Linked DNA regions of Homo sapiens. Changing the gene in region 5 together with the main gene of any one other region gives a genetic interaction. Each region holds a gene or a part of one and is shown on either strand. Other genes may lie near its edges. The genes, in order: RAB5C, SEC24A, FUT8, SEC24B, RICTOR and SEC23IP.

Region 1 (3,255 bases), on a different chromosome or scaffold from region 5:
GCTTTTGTTTTGTTTTGTTTTGTTTTAATTTTGCCCCAAAAGCCTGTTGACTTAACTGTCACCAGGCTGTCACACATTCATTCATCGCCTGTGTGTGTTTATTTGTAGGTGAATGTACATATTTGGGATCCAGAAGTCAATGTGTTTGCTCAGAACCATGAGCCTGAAGTTGGGAGACCATTCTCCTCTTTACAGCTCAGATGGTGGTAGAGCCGGTAGACATCTAGTATAGCCCAGTGGGGCCTCCTGACCTCTAGTGGGGAGGGCAGGGAGGTGAGGTGAGGGGAAGCAGTCAGCTAGGTCTTCAGTGAGGCCAGAGGGAAAGATCTGTAATTTAAGAAGGACACAGCGGGTGACGGCCTCTGAACTAACTCAGTACTTCTCATTTCTCCCTTACAGTTGGAGGTCCCCCTCCCCACTAAGTGCCTCTTTGCATAGCACCAGTCCCCACCCGCACGCTCTCTGGACCACTACAGCTGGACGGGCAATGGCGGGTCGGGGAGGCGCAGCACGACCCAATGGACCAGCTGCTGGGAACAAGATCTGTCAATTTAAGCTGGTTCTGCTGGGGGAGTCTGCGGTAGGCAAATCCAGCCTCGTCCTCCGCTTTGTCAAGGGACAGTTTCACGAGTACCAGGAGAGCACAATTGGAGGTGAGTGGGCATGAGGGAGTCGGGGAGGGGCCTGAAGGTTGCCAAAGAAATGCTTTGACCTTGAGGAGATGGGAAGCTGCCTGCCTGCATTAGGGACTAAATGCGTCTGTGGTGGCAGCCCCACTTCCTCACCTGGGCCCTGGAATTGAGCCCAGCAACTGGTCTCCATGCCAGAGTCCCCTCAAGCATCGCTAGTAAGCATTTGCTGGGAGTGGAAAGCTAGCTTCCCATCCTGTTTCTGCCCCTTCTTGATCTGTGTGGCCTTGGCTGAGGCCCTTTCACTGCCCTGGCCTCATGGAGGGAGAGCTGACTCTGGATCTTTGAGGCCCCTTCTTACTATAATGGGTGGTCCATGTGCCCTGGCCTTTCCCACTTCCAGAAGAAGGAACAGCCTGGTGAGTCGGAGCTGGGTGATAGGTGGGTGTTTCTGAAGCTGACTTTACCCTTTCTGGAGCTCACAGCCTGTTGTTGATTTTCCAGTGGTCAGCATTTAGGATGTGAGTGAGGGTCTGGCCTCGGCCTCTTGCCTCCGTGGCTAACACACACATCAAGAGGCAGGGGCCAACGCTGGCCTTGGCCTTGAGTCATCCTTTCTCTACTCTCTTGGTAGGAGGTTTCTAGGCAGCTGGAAACAAAATGGGCCATGTCAGCAGTCTCCCTGCTGCCTCCTCAGCATTTGGGTCAGGAGCTGGAGAGGGGAAGTGAGGCAGTGCCCCATGTCCCTCAGTGAGCTGGGGGAGGGCAGACCAGGAAAGCAGCCTTCTACACATGGCTGTCCTGGGTTCTCTGCTGGGTCCAGGGGCAAAGGGGCCTTTTGCTGTCTGTCCCAGCTCTGGACTCCTCCTTTGAAGCATGTGTACAGGCACCCTGCATTCCCCTAAGGAGTCACCTCTTAGTGACTGAAGGTCAGGTCACAGGGTGGCCATACAGGAACAGGTCTGGGTCAGAGCTAGGGGCGGTGGCTAGCTGGAGTGCCTGGAGGTGGTAGGGGTGGTTGGGAAGCCGGCCACCCAGCCTCAGCCTGGTGGTGGAACAGTGTGTACTTCCCCAGCATAGCTAAGTGTGTGAGAATGTCCTTAGGAAACCCAAGGTCAGTGACACCCCTGGGCTGGAGCAAACTGAGGGGTGGAGCGGTCCCTAGCTGCTGGTCTGTTCTCTGAGTGGCGGAGGAGGAGGTCTGAGGGCGCTCACCCTTCTGTGCTTGGAGTAGGCTTCCCCTAGGCTTTCCCTCTCTTGCCCCTGCTGTGTTGCTCTTCAGAGAGTGGTCCTGAGATGGCTCAGTGCATGCAGGAGTCCCTTCTCCTGCCGTTGCCTGGGCTGGGTCTGCAAAGCCTGTGCAGACCCCGTCCCCCAGACACATACATAAAAATCCAAACTCCACCCCCCACTCAGGCCTGCTTTGGCTCCTGGCTTGAGGGTTCTCTGTGCCCATCTCAGTGGTGGGCTTCTGAGTGCCAGAGCCTAGAAGCAACAGTGGGATTGTGTGGGGTGGATTCCAACTCGCTCTTGCCCATGGACGCTCCTTCTCTCTTACAGCGGCCTTCCTCACACAGACTGTCTGCCTGGATGACACAACAGTCAAGTTTGAGATCTGGGACACAGCTGGACAGGAGCGGTATCACAGCCTGGCCCCCATGTACTATCGGGGGGCCCAGGCTGCCATCGTGGTCTATGACATCACCAACACAGTAAAGATTTCCCCTTGCTTCTTCCTTTGCCCTTCATCTTCTCAAAGTCCCAGGGATTGGGTTATCAGAGCCCTGATTTCAGGCCGCTTAACCCTCTGTTCCTGGGTGGGGGGTGGGCAGATTTCCTGTTTGGGGACATTGCATCAGAATCTTTAGGTGGCAATGTCTTAGATAATTTGGCTGTGCCAGCTTGAGAGTCTCTAATGGGTGGCCCTGGGCAGAATGCCTTCTCTGTCCCTTCGACATTCTGTCCCTGTCTCCTCAGGATACATTTGCACGGGCCAAGAACTGGGTGAAGGAGCTACAGAGGCAGGCCAGCCCCAACATCGTCATTGCACTCGCGGGTAACAAGGCAGACCTGGCCAGCAAGAGAGCCGTGGAATTCCAGGTGGGGAGATGACAGACTTGGGGGAAGGAGTGGAGTAAGCAGCTCCCCCCGGCCTCGCCTGGGATGCTCAGGGGCTTTGGGAAGGGCCATGCTAGGAGGCAACAGGGAAGCTTCCATCTGCTGTCCTCTCGTGCCTCAGGCATGGGCCTAACATGGCTCCTGTCTGTAATCCCAGTGCCTTGGGAGGCTGGAGTGGGAGGATCACTTGAGGCCAGGAGTTCGAGACCAGCCTAGGCGACACAGTAAGACTCTGTCTCTGCAAAAGATTTAAAAATTAGCTGGGCTTGGTGGCACGCACCTGTAGTCTCAGCTGCTCAGGAGGCTGAGGCACGAGGATTGTTTGAGCCCAGGAGTTTAAGATTGCAGTGATTGCAACACTGCACTCCAGCCTGAGCAAGAGTGAGGCCCCATCTCTTTAAAAAAAAAAAAAAAACAGCCAGGTGTGGTGGCACACACCTGTAATCCCAATACTCTGCAGGCTGAGGCGGGAGATCACTTGAGCTTAGGAGTTCGAGACCAGCATGGG
Region 2 (3,313 bases), about 96 Mb from region 5:
GAATGAAGAAATTTGACTTATTTTTAAGGAATGTCACGATAGTGCAGAATACCTGGAAATGTGTAATACCTTCTTTTTCTATTATGTTTGTGGACTAATGTGATGATTGAGATGTTCTCACTGTGATTTCAACAACCTATAGCAAATAAAAGACCACAGCAGAGAATCAAACATGCAACTCTGAAATACTGTATTTTTCAAATCAGAATATAGCTACGTATGATTGGATACTTTTTTCTTGCCAATTATGTTTGAGTTGTTATGGATTAAAATAAGAATATTGCAGAGGCAAAGTACATTTTGTAAAATAAAGATTTCTGTGTTCTACATGTATATTTCTCATTTTTAATTTTTCTGAATCTTTGGCTGCTACATTTAAAACCTCACAAACCTAAGTGTTGCAGGGAAGTTACAAATTGATTGGTAGTGATGTTTTTAAAATAAAAACAATGGAAAGTAAATATAATGTAGGAAAACTAGAATTCATTCCCCACACGTGTCTTTTTTTTTTCTTTGTTAAGGGAAAGGATCATGTTGACTAAAACTAAACTAATTCTAGTATAGCTTGAGAAAAATATGAAGAAACACATTCAAGCTTTAAAATCTGTCAGTATTCTTTATGCTTGAAGAACAAAGTCACTTTGATTTGAAGTGAGAACTATCATTAGGTGGTTTTCTGATTTCCTGATGAAGAGTTGGACATACTGTCTTAATCTATAGTGAAAAGAATTTGAGCTGTCTTCATAAACACTGGGACTAGCAATGATAATAGGGAGATAAGAAACTTTAATTATCTTGATCCTTTAAGTGGATTTTATTTGGTGCATTTCTGCTCTGGGTATATAATAAAAGTGGGGGTTTTTGGTGAAATGAGTGAAGAAATGAAAGGTTTCTAAAGTGCTATCCAAATACATCAGTAACATTTTTCTAAGGAGTTTAATTGTTAAATTGGAAGTCATTCATAAGAAATATTTATGCTTGAATATGAAAATCTATGAAAGCATAAATGCTGCTGTTTGATTTGGTGGATATTAAGATTATACACATCCAACATATTAAAGTTATGAAAGAAACTTGACTTCTGAAAATCCTTAAGAGACTGCTTTCTTGATTCAGCTAGAGAAATATTATAGTCAAAACTATTGAGTGAATTTTGTTTACAAATAGGTAAATTATACATTTGTATATTTAAAGTGCTGTGACATAGTATCTTTAAGAGTTTGGCTCAGTTTTCACAGATTCATTTTGTCTTAAGAATTTCTTAAATATGTTCATGTATAATACTTGATCAAAATATTTTTGGGTTTTTTGTTTTGTTTTAATGGGTTAGAAAATGTTTACAATCTTGGTCTTATATGATCACCAATGGAATAGTAACTTCCAGGTTTATATCAATATGAGCTGACTTTAACTGAGTTGTTTGGGATAGGGAAGAAGCAGTCCCTCTACAGTATACAACTACTGCTTGCCAGCTGGATCAAAATAATCATGTTTTATGAAAATATCTCCCTTAAGCAGTGTTAAGGTTGGTTTGCAGTGTGTAAGTGGCACATTGAACTGGAAGTTTTCTTGAAAGCTGCTTCATCTATTAAGAAGCAATTTTCAAATTGTAGCGAATTATATTATCCCCTCTTTTAAAGAAACAGTCGTTATATGCTGATGTTTCTTAAAATAACTAAAATGTTCCTCTTAATGTGATTTTAAATGGAGTTATTTGTAGGTCCTTTCTTAGTAGTAAAGAATCTTCTAGAGGGAAACATTTGTGCTTTTAGGGATAATCTTCCTTGTGCCTCACTACATCCCTAAGTGGGTATGACTCTTGTTATTACCACATGCTTTTTTAGTATATTTCACAAATTTACTTTTAAATATTATTTTAGATACGGTGTAACATGTGCAATTCAGAATAATTTTATAACAGGTCATGAAAAACATAACTTTAGTTAGGATTCACAATATTTGTTCTCCACATAATGAGAGAATGAATGAGCCTTTGGAGATACTGATATAAGGCAATTATTTTTTGCAATGTTGAATGTGTTTTTTAGTTTGATTCTTTTTTTTTCCCCCAATAGGGCACTACCTGCCATATCATCTTGTATTACTTTTTGATGTAAAGCGACTAATATTTACACTATGCCATATTTTTTTTAATTATAGTTGTAAATTATGAAAGATCCTTGAATTTTCTACAGATCTACAACTACTAATGTAACAGACAAGGGCAATCTTGGTATTTAAATCTGAGCATGGCAGTTCTACCATAAAAAGTACTCTATTTTTCTAATTTCTAGGATTTTTAAAATAACATTTCTGTAAGTCTGACATACTAATAGTCACTCAAGCAGTACCATTTATTTTAGTTTGCATATATTTTCACTGTTTTTAATTTAATGTATTGAGTCTAATAGACTGTTTTGCAATAATTAGAATAAAGATTTATTTCTTCTAATCAAAGATGCATAACAGCTATTATCTAGGGGACCACCAAATGTGATTTCAAAATTTTGTTAACTATTACAAATGTAATCCTTATATAGAAATTTTAATTTTGTAAAGTAGTGTATAATATTGTAATATTAAATTCTTGTTCTTAAATTCAAATATGTATTGATCTTCAATGTGCTGTGTTAAATCTTGCTTCTCTGAAAAGTTGGAGACAAGATTTGTCTTCCTTTTTACAGTTTGTAATTTTCACTGTTTTATTCCTGTTAAAAAAAAAAAAAAGTCATTTGTAACCCATGCAGACCATTGTTTGATCTATGCTAACTTATCAACTTGGCTATTCAATAAAGTTAATTGAAAAGAGCTTATATATAGTGACTAGTTATTTAAAGTGATATGAGCCTGGTATGGTGGCCCACACCTGTAATCCCAGCAGTTTGGGAGGCCCAGGTGTAAGGATCACTTGAGGCCTGGAGTTGAAGACCTGTCTGGGCCAGGTGGCGAAAACTTGTCTCTACAAAATAGTTTTTAAAAGTAGGCTGGGCGTGGTGGCTCACGCCTGTAATCCTAGCACTTTGGGAGGCCAAGGCAGGTGGATCACCTGAGGTCAGGAGTTCGAGACCAGCCTGGCCAATATGGTGAAACCCCATTTCTACTAAAAGTACAAAAACTTAGCCAGGCATGGTGGCGCATGCCTGTAATCCCAGCTACTTGGGAGGCTGAGGCAGGAGAATCGCTTGAACCCTGGCCGAGGTTGCAGTGATCCCAGATCGTGCCATTGCACTCCAGCTTGGGGAACAAGAGCAAAACTCCATCTAAAAAAAAAAAAAAAAGTCCAGGTGTGGTGGCTCATGCCTGTAATCCCAAA
Region 3 (3,446 bases), on a different chromosome or scaffold from region 5:
TCACCTGCTATCCAGTGAGCAGAGAGGGTATTCTTTGGACATAGGGACCTTTTAAGTAGCCTTAAAACTATAGTAATCAGGGTGATGCATTTCCTCAAAGGCTTGCCCAGTTTATGTCATCCAAGCATGCCACTCTCTACACAGCACACTTAAAACTTTTTAGAACAGAAATTGCCGATGTGTTTTAGCTCACTTGCCAGTGCTTGTTGATTGTCAGTAATTACATGAATCTCTCTTGAAAACAGTTCTGGGAGCGGGGAGGGATAGCATTTGGAGATATACCTAATGTTAAATGACGAGTTACTGGGTGCAGCACACCAACATGGCACATGTATACATATGTAACTAACCTGCACGTTGTGCACGTGTACCCTAAAACTTAAAGTATAATTTAAAAAAAAAGAAAACAGTTCTGACACCAAGTTATAAATTAGCAGATGAGAATGTGTGATTGATTAACAGTGTATGAAGGAAAGGGACCATCAGCATTTATTTGTGTTAAGTTTTTTTATCCTAATCCTAAACTTCAAATTCTTTAAGGGCACAAACTATGTCTTACTCATTTTGGTATCATGAGTGCCTAGCTTGGACCACTGTGTATGTAGCTCTTAATAAATGTTTGTTAAAATTAACTAATTCATATTCTTAAATTCTTTTGTACTATATAGAGATAGAGAGATTTTAATTGTAATAATCTTTCGTGAGTTTTTCTTCTTTATTTGAAAAAGGATCCAGACACAGAGATGAAGAATGACTTGTACCATCTTCTGAGAACAAATGGACTGAAAGCTTGTGACTAGAATCCACTACTTTTCAACCTCTTACTCCTAGAGCCCATCCTTTTGGCCAAGGGCTTTTAGATTGCTGTGAAGGAGAGTGTTTATATACTAACAATTTCTTTTAAATTCTTTCCCAAGGTCTGTCGAGTTGCTTATGAAATTATGCAAACACTACATCCTGATGCCTCTGCAAACTTCCATTCTTTAGATGACATCTACTATTTTGGGGGCCAGAATGCCCACAATCAAATTGCCATTTATGCTCACCAACCCCGAACTGCAGATGAAATTCCCATGGAACCTGGAGATATCATTGGTGTGGCTGGAAATCATTGGGATGGCTATTCTAAAGGTGTCAACAGGAAATTGGGAAGGACGGGCCTATATCCCTCCTACAAAGTTCGAGAGAAGATAGAAACGGTCAAGTACCCCACATATCCTGAGGCTGAGAAATAAAGCTCAGATGGAAGAGATAAACGACCAAACTCAGTTCGACCAAACTCAGTTCAAACCATTTCAGCCAAACTGTAGATGAAGAGGGCTCTGATCTAACAAAATAAGGTTATATGAGTAGATACTCTCAGCACCAAGAGCAGCTGGGAACTGACATAGGCTTCAATTGGTGGAATTCCTCTTTAACAAGGGCTGCAATGCCCTCATACCCATGCACAGTACAATAATGTACTCACATATAACATGCAAACAGGTTGTTTTCTACTTTGCCCCTTTCAGTATGTCCCCATAAGACAAACACTGCCATATTGTGTAATTTAAGTGACACAGACATTTTGTGTGAGACTTAAAACATGGTGCCTATATCTGAGAGACCTGTGTGAACTATTGAGAAGATCGGAACAGCTCCTTACTCTGAGGAAGTTGATTCTTATTTGATGGTGGTATTGTGACCACTGAATTCACTCCAGTCAACAGATTCAGAATGAGAATGGACGTTTGGTTTTTTTTTGTTTTTGTTTTTGTTTTTTCCTTTATAAGGTTGTCTGTTTTTTTTTTTTTAAATAATTGCATCAGTTCATTGACCTCATCATTAATAAGTGAAGAATACATCAGAAAATAAAATATTCACTCTCCATTAGAAAATTTTGTAAAACAATGCCATGAACAAATTCTTTAGTACTCAATGTTTCTGGACATTCTCTTTGATAACAAAAAATAAATTTTAAAAAGGAATTTTGTAAAGTTTCTAGAATTTTATATCATTGGATGATATGTTGATCAGCCTTATGTGGAAGAACTGTGATAAAAAGAGGAGCTTTTTAGTTTTTCAGCTTATTTACTTTGTTTTTTTTCCTGTTTCTGATATAGTAACTAATTCTTAACTCAGAGACATTGGTCCATTTTAATACTGAAAACCAATTTTCATTGGTACACATTACAAAATTGCTAAGAACACTGTTTGGGAGCTTTCATTCTCATATTTTGGACATTGTTTTAATTGAGTGAAATAATCATAACTCCTTGCTCCCAGAGAAGCTATCACCTCCATTTCTAAAACCATTTCAGGTTTGTTTGGTAGTCTTTCTTAATGTATTTATTATCGCTTTTTGTGAGTAGGGTCCTGTTTTATCCAGGAACCAATTTCTGCCCTAGCCTATCATGCCCTGCTTTTGAGAGTACCAGGTATCTTTGGGATTGGGAAGCTGGCTGTTTCAGAAGTATATGTCTCATAGTGTGCAGAACTTGGTGACCAAGTGAGAAGCGGGACCAATGGGAGACTCACAATGGACTGAGTCTTGGGATTATCTTTTCCAAATTCTTCCATGTTAGAATCACTTCAGAAAATAAGACTTTGATGCTTTGTCTCTGAGCATCATTTTTCTCCTCATAAAAACACTTCCTTATTGTATGTAGCCTGCCTCCTACAGAGGCCTGGTAGGTGTTACTGCATTCTAAAAGAAAAATGTCATCTCTGTAGGAGCGACTATCAGGCCTAGTGTGAAATATTAGGGATCCTAGGCAGAAGAGCTATTAGTCCTGGCCTTCATATCTTCACCAAATGAAAATACTGTATATAAAATTTCACCACCAAACTTAACTAAATTCTTTTTCTCAAGTCAAGCCTCCCAAAGAAAAAAGAAATTAACTTCCTACAGTGTCAGCAAGCAATTTTCCATTTAGTTTTGGTACAAATAAAAGTCATTTGAAACAATCTCCAACTGAGCGGAGGTAATTTTGATTATGAGTTATTTTGCAACTCGCATCTCACATGTCATTGGAACATCAGTAACTGTGGATCTGATTTGTGCCCTTATAGAAGATCCAAAGGTAAATTAAGTTAGTCTCTTTTCCTTCTAAATTGACCGAGTTCCAGGGGTGAAAGGACCAAAGAACAGAGATACGAAGGAAATAAATTAAGGAGTATTTCCCAAAGGGAGTCTTCAACTGAAGAGTTAATTTTTGACATTTTATCATTTGGTTCTAGAATTTCTCCCTAATTCTTTATATTTCTCTACTGAGATTTTTTTATTCACTACATGCATGTTTTCATTGAACATAACTATGTAGTGAATAAAACTATGAACCTTGAACATAACAGATGAACATAACTATGAACATAACCGAACAAAACATTGAACATAACTATATAGTGAATAAAAAAATTATTTGTTCTCAGTAGAGAACACATAAATAAAAAAATTATGTGTTCTC
Region 4 (3,500 bases), on a different chromosome or scaffold from region 5:
CTAGTATTTCATGTTACTTTATCTTTCCAATTCATCTGTAATTCCTGAAGTATTTTATGCTAAAGGTATTAGAATAATTTTCTTTCCTAGAAATGAGGCATCTTCATTGTCAGCATTGTTAGAAAAGATCATGTTATATATATTCAGCCCTGGAGAAGCTACTATTTTCAATAGGCTGAGCATACTCAGAATTGTCCAGAAGGAGTGGACTAGTGAAAAGGTTGTAGGCTTTGATATAGCCCAAATTTTTGTGGAGAAACTTACTTAACATGCTTCAGAGTATAATAATACCTTTCTTACAGAGTTGTTTATAGAACTACATTTAATAAGGTACTATTTTTAAAGTACTTAGCCCTAGAAGGAGCTTAGCAATTAGAGTCCCTCCCTTCCATTTTCTTCAGAACACCGTTTTATAAATTCTTCAGGTGGCAGAAACCATATGAGTTTTCTTCATCATATGCCCAGTAGTAGCAGCTTGTAATAGGCACTCAGTTAAGTGAACTTGGTTTCCTATTCGTTATTGCTTTTGAAGACTGGCCACTGACAGGAGTCTGTGTGCCAGCTCCCTCTCCCCTTTTTTGTATTTAAGGCTCAATCACTATTTTAGTCTTCTCTTTATTTTCTTCTGCTTTCCAGTCCTCCATCCCTTATGTCCGCAAATGCATTCTTGGAAGGTTTCTGGTAATAGGCCATCTATTTTAGCTAGTTTGCTTATGGAAAGGTAAGTTTAATGGGTTTTAAGTTTTCTAAAATTGTGTGCCAGAAGTCATTTGTAACAGGAACTGAGGAAAAGCAGGATGAAGTAGCGAGAGGGAGTGGTAAAATCATGTCTTGCCTAGCCAGTGGCCAAGTCTTAACTTGTTTTCCTTAGGATTTCTGATTAATGGATATTGTGAAATGAGGTATAAGCCTGGCTTTGGAACCAGCAATGCCTGGCTTCTTTGCTCCTTACCAACGATTTGAATTCGTATGAATTAGTGGGCTTTCATGGCCCTGTTTATTTGTATATAAAAGATGATAGTGATACTTCACAGAATTGTTTGAGAAGCATATCAGATTATATGTAGAAAAGCAAGGTATCTGGCATGTAGTAGATTCTGAACCAATATTGATTTTCTTTTCTTTCTGTATTTTGAGACAGGGCCTCACTTTGTCACCCAGGCTGGAGTGCAGTGATATGATCACAGCTCACTGCAGTCTTGACCTCCCCGGGTTAAGGTGATTCTCCCACTTCAGCCTCCTGAGTAGCTAGGACTACAGGGGCATGCCACTATGCCCAGCTAATTTTTGTATTTTTTGTAGAGATGGGGTTTCACCATGTTGCCCAGGCTCAAGTGATTCTCCTACCTTGGCCTCCCAGAGTGCTGGGATTACAGCGTGAGCCACCATGTGTGGCCTTGGTTGTCTTTTGGCCCCTCACTCATAGCACTCATTGTCGTGGTATCCAAGAAGGATAATTGATGTTGTAGCAGGAATAATCTATACTTAATGCAGTGAGATTTAATCCAGTTGTTTACATAGCCTGTGTCTGTAGGCTCTGTCCGCCAGCGGTGACTGGAACAGTTACCTTCATCCTCAGGTATATTTGCAGTTTATGGAATGTAGGAGAGAAAGAATACAAGAAAACATTTCTCTCAGAGCTTGGGAAGAAGCTCTATAACTGTTATCCTTGCATTATGATAACCTAGGATATCCAGATGTAATCTGAGACTCCTCATTTTTGAAATCACCAAGGTTTGTAATTGCCTATTGCCTTAGGGGTGTGTGGGTGTGCAAGCATGCACATTTTTTATGCCCATTAAAAATCTGTATTTTGGCATTGTTAGTGATACCTTATTGGCAGGGAGAGTATATTAAAATATTCAGTAATCAGTACTGTGTATACTGACCACTAAATGGATACCATCCTTCATACCAGAGCAGGATCCTATAAGCTTTCAGCTGTGCCAGGCATTACTCCTTCAGCTGCGGATTATGAGAAGGTTTGGGCTAGCATGGTGGGGTAAAGCAGGGGAATAGGACCATGGCTATGACTCATTACCAACTGATTCAGAGCTATTTTAACATTTTAACAAAGATAATTGTTAAAATGAATACCTGGGTGCATACTGACTGAATATTGGCCTATTTCTTTGTAATTGAGTGATGAATGAATTCAGTGATTACATTCTTCGATCTGATTCTACCTCAAAGTTAGTATGAATTTATCTTAGTAGGATAAAGGAACTTGTACTTTGCTGACCTTGATGTTTGTGTTCAGATAATGGAAACTGAAATCTGACTTTGATCTGACTGAAAAAAAAAGTTGGAATTCAATTCAGGAAAATATTAATGAAACAACTATTTTTAATATTAAAATGTGTCTCAGGGAGGGGGAATGATCATGCTATTATGGAAATCTCAGGAGTAGTCAAATTAGAGATGTGGTTTTTGTTTTCTCTCTTCATTTTTTTCTTTTTAAACAATAATTGTAGTATGGTGGAAATCATGACTGTTACAATCTTATTCAGGTAACTTGCTTTATTTTTGTGTTTTCCTGTATGTTTATATTACTCATTTATCAATTTTGCACATTTTTACTAGGTTTGGTAACCTTTTTATGTCAAATGTTTTTTTCCCTATAAAATGGCTGTATTGTAATATTAGAATAATCCAATGTTGATGCTTTATTTTCCTTGAAGTTTCTCCAACTTTATATTTATGGTAATATCTCTTAAGTGAGCTCTCAGTACCAGTTAGTCCTGTGGTATTTCCCTGCTCCATTCCCAGTGTCACATGCTCCCCTTTTCCCTCAAATTCTCAGTATCCTGTCTCTCTGCCTCCCTTTCCAATGGTGACCTTACTTATTTTACTAAGAAATTGAAAGCAATCTGACAATCTGAAGATAAAGTATTAATCTTCTGCCACCAAATCTGTCAGTCTTCCTGCATATTATTCTTGTGTTATCTGAGACAAATTCAGATTATTTGGGTACAGAATTCTGTTCCCTCTCTTTTAAGAACTTTGTCCCTCCGATTATCTCATTTACCATCAATTTTGATCTTAAACACCTGAACCTTATTTTATGCAATGCATATGTAATCCTAACAGTTATATATAACTTTTATTTTAGAGACGAGATCTCACTGTGTTGCCTGGGATGGTCTCAAACTCCTAGGCTCAAGTGACCCTCCAACCTCTGCCTCCCAGAGTGCTGGGATTACAGGCATGAACCACCATGCCTGGCCTATAAATTTAATTTACAATTCCTAGCAAATATTTATGTAGCTCCTCTTTACATAACATTTTGTGCTAGATACTCTGGGCATACAAATGTGAATGTTCTCTGCACTCCAGGAGTTCTGTACCCCTCAGTAAAAGAGGAGAGGACTGTCAGCACTGAACATGTGTTTCCTTCATAAGGCCTGTGAGAAGGGTGCCCAGAGTTTTGAAGAGGAAACAATTCTTTTTGGTTAAAGTAATAGGGAATCTTAAGGGAGGAAGTTAGAACTTCAGCTATA
Region 5 (3,500 bases):
GAATTAGAATACCAAAAAGAAATTTGGAAAAGTAAACCAGAGAACTTTAGTCATCACTAGGTTTTTCTGAAGGTGGGACGTGATCACTTACCTGAATGACTACATATTGCACTCAGTTGGTTGCTGGGCTGGAAACCCAGAATTTCAATACAGACACAATAAAGGCAGTTATCATCTGTATGTTCCTGTAGTCCAGTGTCTTCTGTACTTTCTAAAAACAGAGAGGCATCTGAATGGATTGAATTCATTATTTCCGTAAGACTCATCTGCTGTCGTAGCAAGTGAAAAGAATTTTTTACAAGACCTCCAGTTCCAGATGGAAGACCTGTGCATAAGTAAATATAAAACATAATCCAATAAAGATAATACTTTTCAAGGTACCTTAAATTATGTGAAATTTTAAAGAAAGCTTAAGCACATTTTATGACTCAAAATCTAACTGGAAAGAAAAAAAGAATAATTTGCTTTAAGTTATAAAAATAAGGAAAGCCAGCAGATGTTTATTATTTTAATATATAGTGTTTTAAATACAAAATGGAAAATTGAGATTATATAATACATCATTTCAATTATCGTCAATATTTGCCTAAAGATATGTAATAATTCTAAGTATAAAGAGGCATTTGTTTAAAAAGTCATTAAGAATATAAAGCTATAAAACCTGTGGCTTATATTTACATATTAAAATATAACAGTTCAAAACAAAGACCGTGTATTTTATAAGTACATTTCTTTCTCCTTACTCTAAACAAACAGCTATTTCCTGGATCTATGAGGATTAGTGTTATACATTGTTCATGTGCTACTTTTAAAAAACAGAAACAACTAATTTGGTTTCTATTTCCTTGAAAGGTTGAGTACTTCACTGAAAACACTGTTAAGTCCCTCACACATACACAAAAATGTGGTTTAATTTTAAGCTGACTTTAACAATTGTTTTGGTATAATTTTAAAGTTGATCCAAAAGTGAGTCTTCCTAAATTTTTAGTGTTATCCTACTAGAAAGAACTAAGAGTTTTCTTTTTAATATAAAGAGGCATCTCACAAGTACAATGCACAATGCATTACCTCCTGCATCATGGGCAAATGCTCTTGCACCTCGATCATCATGTGGTGGTATGTTTTTTGTCTGAAAATAGGGAATATCCTTTACCTAAAAAAAGATATAAACCATGGTAAGTCCTGCTATAAAAATAAGCCCACTTTATGAAAATTAGCAAAATTAAACAAAATAAAATTAAAATAGAATTACCATAGCATATGAACCTATAATCAAGTTTACTGAAGGTTCAACTACCAAAACTTAACAAAATAACCCAAAAAGTCCTTATTATATTATTAGTGACTAAATGGACATTAATTATTTTAGCGTTTATCTAAAATGTCTTTCAACTTCTAAGAAAATGTGTTCTTTAGTACTATATACCATCTAGAGATCTGTGGGTATCTCCTGGGATTAGGGTCACCTTATATTACTGGGTACCACATATGGCTGGCTACCTTTTATGGGATAAATAGGAATGAGGATTTAAAAATGAGGTATAAGTTAAATGTGACTAAAAAACAAGTTAGAAATTTCATAAATTTCTACAGAGAATATATGGATAAAGAAATCAAATGAGATACTGATTTAATATGGGAAGAGAGGGAAGGATAATGTTCTAAGGACTAAATAAAAGAGTACAGAGTAGTTGAAAAGGGCAAAATAATTTTAATCTTAAAGTTTCTTTAAACAAAACGGTCTTAAAAATCATGCTGCCCCAAACTGGTGCCCACCCTAAATTATGATTTCTAGTAAGCAGTTACAGCATATGAAAAAATAGGAAACCAACTCATAGGAAAACAATAAAATGTATGATAATACCTGGAATATATCATTTATATCCACCGGGAGAGCAAGACCAATGTAATCATCTGAACCCCCATATGTGGCACTGGACACCATGGACCGCACTGAGGAAGATCGTTGCAGGGTATTTTGATTAATAGGACTCAATAAATCTTCTTTATCTAATGATGCATAACTTAAGGCTTTCATGAACCTATAAAACCATAAAGAAACCACTTGCATTAGTTTCTTGATCTGTAATTTTAATCATATGAAGAAATAACATATATTCCTACCTTCATAAAAGACAAGTAGCTAGTCATGTATTAAGCAGTGTCATCTTGTTTACTGGCAACACATAAACACTTTAAAATATTAGCTGTTATAGACCGCTATGTAAAAGGTCACCAGTAATGTTGACTGTTACCAAAAACAACTGTTATGGTCTCTCAGGTAAAGGTGAAAAGGTGGGCAATTAGAATAACTTTCAACATCTAGAAGTAAAAAAAGAAACTGACCTCAGTAGTCAGAGCATGGTCCAAGGACTATCTTCATAATCACTTGAGACTACTAGATTTGGCATTTATGTAACTAAGGATATGTGTATCAACTCTATTTAATATTATATTTATAAAAAATGAGATCAATTACATATCATTATTTGTGTGATAATTACCTTAATGCCTTCATTATCAACATAAGATTTATGTAGCACACAAGACAGACACAAGAGCAAAATGGTCATTTATGACGAGATATCCTTGTAAAAAGCACTGATATTTCCACAATGTACTGATATTTCCACAATGTACTCCTTACTACTAGAGATTCCATAACAAATATGATACACTGATATTTCCATAAGATACATGTTTCTCATACAGATTCTTACTTATGCAACAGACATGCTAAAATATTTACTTGGTATCTGCTGTATATATACAAGGCACTATGCAAGGTTCCACATTTATATACATTTATATGAAGATATTTTTGTTTGGAAAACCAAGTCTTTAAAATGTACGAATGCAGCCTAATATTAAATCAAATAATTATTTTGTAAAACACACAAAAGAAATGCTTTCTAAATAGTAGCTATTAACATAGCAAAAACCATGCTCCTAATTTCCACCCAAAAAACACTCTTTCAAACTGTAATCTGTTACATTTCTTTGGTTCCCATAAAACTCTTCAAGGATTACTGGAGTGGGAGGAAAACAATTATTGGATTATTCCCCTTCCCAATTCCTATTTCAACCAGTATAGGTCCCTTTCTATCTATTCTACCTATTGGGTTTCCACAGAAATCTTTATGTGAAAAAATAATTTCTCTGCTTAAAAAACAACAATACAAAAGTTTACAACCACTGATCTAGTGCAATCTCCACCAGATGAGGTAACTGAGGCTTAGGAATGTTCAAAATTCATGAACTTTACTGCATAGATTTGTAACAGTGAGCTGTTGAGAACTTTCCCTGGCTTTGTCCTGGACAAGGTTGCCAAAGCTAGTGAGTTCCAGATAGATGAGACATTGCTGCATAATTTCTTAAATCCTGTAAGGGTACACAATTCATTGTCTGCTACCAAGAAACCCTCTATTAAATGTGTTAAGCATTATTGAAACAAAACTGCTTAATGTTATTAAGAATAATGTAAGGGCTAGATGGATTAC
Region 6 (4,284 bases), on a different chromosome or scaffold from region 5:
GACAGTAAGCACATGAAATCGTTATTGAATTAATAAACTTAGGTTCTATATATGTGTAAACAGCTGAGCAGAGTTTCATTATTTTGAGCGTTCTTTTGGTATCTCCTCTCCCAACCTCCAAGAAGCTGAAATATGGCTTAAGTTATATTTTCCTTCAAAATCTCTAACTATGAAAGATGACAATTATGTCCAAGTTATCCACAGTACCTCCTGGATTGAAGTAAGTCAGCTTACTGTGGATATAGAAAGCTATCTAAAATGTCAGATCTCTAATTTCAATGCCCTGGTTTCTTTTTTTTTCTTTTTTTTTTTTTTAAGGAGACAGGGTCTCGCTGCACAGTGAGTGGCAAGATCAGGGTTAATTTGGCCTCAAGCAATATTCCCGCCTCAGCCTCCTGAGTAGCTGGCAATATAGGTGCTATGCCACCAAGCCCGGCTAATTTTTGTATTTTTAGTAGAGACGGGGTTTCACCATGTTGGCCAGGTTGGTCTCAACCTTCTGGGCTCAAGCTATCCTCCCGCTCTGCCTCACAAAGTGCTGGGATTGCAGGCCTGCGCCATGGCGTCTGGTTTGATTTCTCTTTTAAATATTTTTTTTGGCCAGGCGTGGTGGTTCATGCCTATAATCCCAGCAGTTTGGGAGGCCAAGGCGGGCAGATCACGAGGTCAGGAGATTGAGACCATCCTGGCCAACCCGGTGAAACCTCGTCTTTACTAAAAATACAAAAAATTAGCCAGGCGTGGTGGCGGACGCCTGTAGTCCCAGCTACTCGGAGGCTGAGGCAGGAGAATCGCTTGAACCCGGGAGGCGGAGATTGCAATGAGCCCAGACTGCACCGCTGCACTCCAGCCTGGGCGACACAGCAGACTTGTCTCAAAACAAAAAACAAAACCAACCAAAAAAACAAAAAACAAATGCAAAACAAAAAACAACAAAAATAAAACGAAATATTTTTTTCTCCCTATGGATTAAACACTTAAAAAATGTTTTACCACTTCTATTTCTGGGTCAACCACAATGTTCGGTTCCATCCAGAAAGACAAGTGGGTTTTGGAGAGGGTGTTTGGTTCCGCCTAGCATGCGAATTCCCATTCCCGCACAACGCTCTTCCTCCCTTCCTCCTTCCGGTAGCGTCCAGCAGGATTCCGCTGTTCCTCCAAAATCTTTGTCAGGAGAGCCATCCTGACGGTACCTTTAGGAAGCCCATAGATACCCGCCACAACCTGTGACTTTCAGGGTCAATTGCGTCTCAATTCGCACGTCTATCCAGAACCTGCGGGGACCACGTCCCCATCCTCCCGCCCGGCCTCCGCCTCCGAGGGTGTCACGTGCTAGACGCGGGCGTGAAGACAGTGTCGCCATGTTGATATCTGGCGTCGCCGTGTAGGGGAAGGGAGAGGGCGGCTGACTAGCTACCCGTAATTTCGGCTCCTGTGCGCAAGTGCGGAAGTGCGCTGGCCAGGAGCGTGATCGGTTTCCGGTCAGTGGTGTGGTACCGGGTACCCGGAGACGTGTATCGGACGGTGGGCCGCAGCCATGGCCGAGAGAAAACCTAACGGTGGCAGCGGCGGCGCCTCCACTTCCTCATCGGGCACTAACTTACTTTTCTCCTCCTCGGCCACGGAGTTCAGCTTCAATGTGCCCTTCATCCCAGTCACCCAGGCCTCCGCTTCTCCGGCCTCCCTGCTCTTACCGGGAGGTAATAAGGGGAGGGCGGCCCCGTGTGTGGTGGGAGGCGGGCGGGGGACGTGCAATGACAAAGGTCAGACGGGAGTTTTTCCTTCTGCCTCGAGCTACCCTCTGGATAGCTTGCCAGGATCATTACTGGCCAGGTTTGAGTGGGTCGGGGGCTTTGGGATCTTGGAGGTGGCAGGTGATGAGACTTGCTCTTCACGGAAACCCCCTGTTCCGAGTTGTCCAGAGTGCTGGACATTCATTCGTACCCTGGCATTCCGCAAATCTTTGCTGAATACCCGTTGTTGGTACGCCAGGTGCTGGCAGGAAATGCAAATAAATTAAACAGTGGCCCTCTCCTAGGGTACAGTAGTCTGTCTCCCACTAGGAGACTCCTAGGATACGGTAAGATACCTCCTAGGATGGACTGTGCCCCTCTCCTAGGATACGGTACACTGTCTCCTACTAGGAGATTGTTGTGATACAGTACAATATCTTCTAGGTTACAGTAAGATATCTTATAAGATGGACTGTGCCCCTCTTCTAGAAGCCTGTAATATTTGTGAAGTAGACATATACAATGCATTCCTTATCTTTTTTTTTTTTTTTTTTTTTTTGAGACGGAGTCTTGCTCTGTCGCCCAGGCTGGAATGCAGTGGCGCGATCTCGGCTCACTGCAGCCTCCACCTTCCAGGTTCAAGTGATTCTCCTGCCTCAGCCTCCCGAGTAGCTGGGACTACAGGCGTCTGCCACCATGCCTGGCTAATTTTTGTATTTGTAGTAGAGACAGGGTTCCACCATGTTGGCCAGGATGGTCTCAATCTCCTGACCTCAAGTGATCCGCCTGCCCTGGCCTCCCAAAGTGCTGGGATTACAGGTTTAACCCCCCACCCATTCCTCATCTTTCAAGACAATACATCACTTCTTCCAAGAAGCTGTTTCTTGTTCTCTTAGGCCCCCACTCCTATGTGCACTCCTAGCTCTTTTTTCATATTTGTATTATTGTCCAGGGAGATTGCTTTTTGATGATTATGTAGCATTGCCCAGAGCATAGTGTTTAAGAGCACAGACTGTCTGTATTCCAGTCCTTGCCCTGCCAGTAACTTGCTGTGTGACTGTAGGCATTTTACTTTACCTCTCTGTGCTTCAGTTTCTATGTATGTGTAGCCTCACAGAATTGTAATTAGAAATGCTTTAATTTTTGCAAAGCGCTAAGTATAGTGCGTGCCAGACAGTGTGATTTAATGTTTGTGAAATAAACACACCTGCCTCTCCATTTGGACTGCAGTCTTCTTCAGCAGCTATGACCTAATTGCCTTTTTATCTCCAGGATCTTATTTAGGGCCTAGTACATAGATCCTCTTTGGATGCTGAGTTTCCAGTGAATAATTTATTCTTGTTTGAAGGATGAAAGACAGTTTCATGGAGAAGCGAAGACAGGCACACTGGGAACAGCTGTACATGAAGGTTCCCCTGCCCATGTGTTATGTTTCTTCTTGATGCTTGTCACTACCTGACATGTACACATATTTGTTTATTCCACTGCACTAGGATGTAAGACCATGAAAGCAAAAACTTACTTTTATTCACGATTATATTCCCACTGCCTAGAATGGTGTGTGGTATTTAGTAGACCAATTATTCAGTAGATGTTTGTTGAATGAGTGAAAGGATGGGAGTCAAAATGATGTCTCATTTTGACCTGTGGTTGAAAGGTTAGGTGTTGCTGTCTTTGGTGAAGAACCAGCATGGTTGGAGCAGAATGCTGTGGGAGGATGCAGGAATAAATAGGGCTATACTTGGGGTTTTCTAATTATCCTCTGCACCATTAAAGTTGTTTGGTTATGTCCGTCTTCCTTGCTATGTAGTGTTTGGTTTGTGTGTGTCACTGTGAATTCATGCTAAACGTTTTCATTGTTAAGTCTGGTATAGCTACACCTGTCTTTAATGCTTTTGTTTCTTGGAGACAGTCTGTGTGTGTGTGTGTGTGTGTGTGTGTGTGTGTGTGTGTGTGTGAATATTAATAATTTTAGAACTAAAATTCATCTCTAAAAATCTCAGAAACCCATTCAGAGAATTTCCAGAGACAAAAGAAGAACCTGTCTCCCTGGAAGCAACAGTTAATCATATAAGTGGAAGAGAGACACAGGAAGCAATTTCATACATTCAGCAGACATGGAAGGCCTGGCACAGTGGCTCACGCCTGTAATCCCAGCACTTTGTGGGGCTGAGGCGGGTGGATCACCTGAGGTCAGGAGTTCAAGACCAACCTGGCCAACATGGTGAAACCCCATCTCAACTAAAAACACAAAAGTTAGTTGGATGTGGTGGTGGGCGCCTGTAATCCCAGCTACTCGGGAGGCTGAGGCATGAGAATCGCTTGAGGAGGAGGTTGCAGTGAGCTGAGGTCATGTCACTGCACACTCCACCCTGGGCGACAGAGTGAGACTCCATCTCAAAAACAAAAACCAGACATGGATTGAGCAGTTTCTATTTGCCAGGCACTGTTCCAGAACCTGGGAGACACAGAAGAGCAGACAGCCCTGCCCTCAATGACTGCACAGTATGTGTGTATACACACACACCCACCTGTGTAAGCAACTGTGATA

The links.
Region 1: changes in RICTOR (region 5) and RAB5C together harm fitness less than expected from each alone (positive genetic interaction), as found in Homo sapiens cells (one large-scale study listed by BioGRID).
Region 2: changes in RICTOR (region 5) and SEC24A together harm fitness less than expected from each alone (positive genetic interaction), as found in Homo sapiens cells (one large-scale study listed by BioGRID).
Region 3: changes in RICTOR (region 5) and FUT8 together harm fitness less than expected from each alone (positive genetic interaction), as found in Homo sapiens cells (one large-scale study listed by BioGRID).
Region 4: changes in RICTOR (region 5) and SEC24B together harm fitness less than expected from each alone (positive genetic interaction), as found in Homo sapiens cells (one large-scale study listed by BioGRID).
Region 6: changes in RICTOR (region 5) and SEC23IP together harm fitness more than expected from each alone (negative genetic interaction), as found in Homo sapiens cells (one large-scale study listed by BioGRID).

Annotation. Positions count from the first base shown.
Region 1 is NC_000017.11:42,127,735-42,130,989, reverse strand, and holds part of RAB5C (ras-related protein Rab-5C), read left to right. Parts: intron 1-399; coding exon of another isoform or gene 400-487; coding exon 488-653; intron 654-2,189; coding exon 2,190-2,341; intron 2,342-2,606; coding exon 2,607-2,729; intron 2,730-3,255. UniProt on the Homo sapiens protein: The small GTPases Rab are key regulators of intracellular membrane trafficking, from the formation of transport vesicles to their fusion with membranes.
Region 2 is NC_000005.10:134,725,097-134,728,409, forward strand, and holds the end of SEC24A (protein transport protein Sec24A), read left to right. Parts: 3' UTR 1-2,813; downstream 2,814-3,313. UniProt on the Homo sapiens protein: Component of the coat protein complex II (COPII) which promotes the formation of transport vesicles from the endoplasmic reticulum (ER).
Region 3 is NC_000014.9:65,741,176-65,744,621, forward strand, and holds the end of FUT8 (alpha-(1,6)-fucosyltransferase), read left to right. Parts: intron 1-917; coding exon 918-1,235; 3' UTR 1,236-2,946; downstream 2,947-3,446. UniProt on the Homo sapiens protein: Catalyzes the addition of fucose in alpha 1-6 linkage to the first GlcNAc residue, next to the peptide chains in N-glycans.
Region 4 is NC_000004.12:109,440,315-109,443,814, forward strand, and holds part of SEC24B (protein transport protein Sec24B), read left to right. Parts: intron 1-3,500. UniProt on the Homo sapiens protein: Component of the coat protein complex II (COPII) which promotes the formation of transport vesicles from the endoplasmic reticulum (ER).
Region 5 is NC_000005.10:38,945,400-38,948,899, forward strand, and holds part of RICTOR (rapamycin-insensitive companion of mTOR), read right to left. Parts: intron 2,043-3,500; coding exon 1,865-2,042; intron 1,154-1,864; coding exon 1,069-1,153; intron 326-1,068; coding exon 92-325; exon of another isoform or gene 1-91. UniProt on the Homo sapiens protein: Component of the mechanistic target of rapamycin complex 2 (mTORC2), which transduces signals from growth factors to pathways involved in proliferation, cytoskeletal organization, lipogenesis and anabolic output.
Region 6 is NC_000010.11:119,891,246-119,895,529, forward strand, and holds the start of SEC23IP (SEC23-interacting protein), read left to right. Parts: upstream 1-1,484; 5' UTR 1,485-1,537; coding exon 1,538-1,700; intron 1,701-4,284. UniProt on the Homo sapiens protein: Plays a role in the organization of endoplasmic reticulum exit sites. Specifically binds to phosphatidylinositol 3-phosphate (PI(3)P), phosphatidylinositol 4-phosphate (PI(4)P) and phosphatidylinositol 5-phosphate (PI(5)P).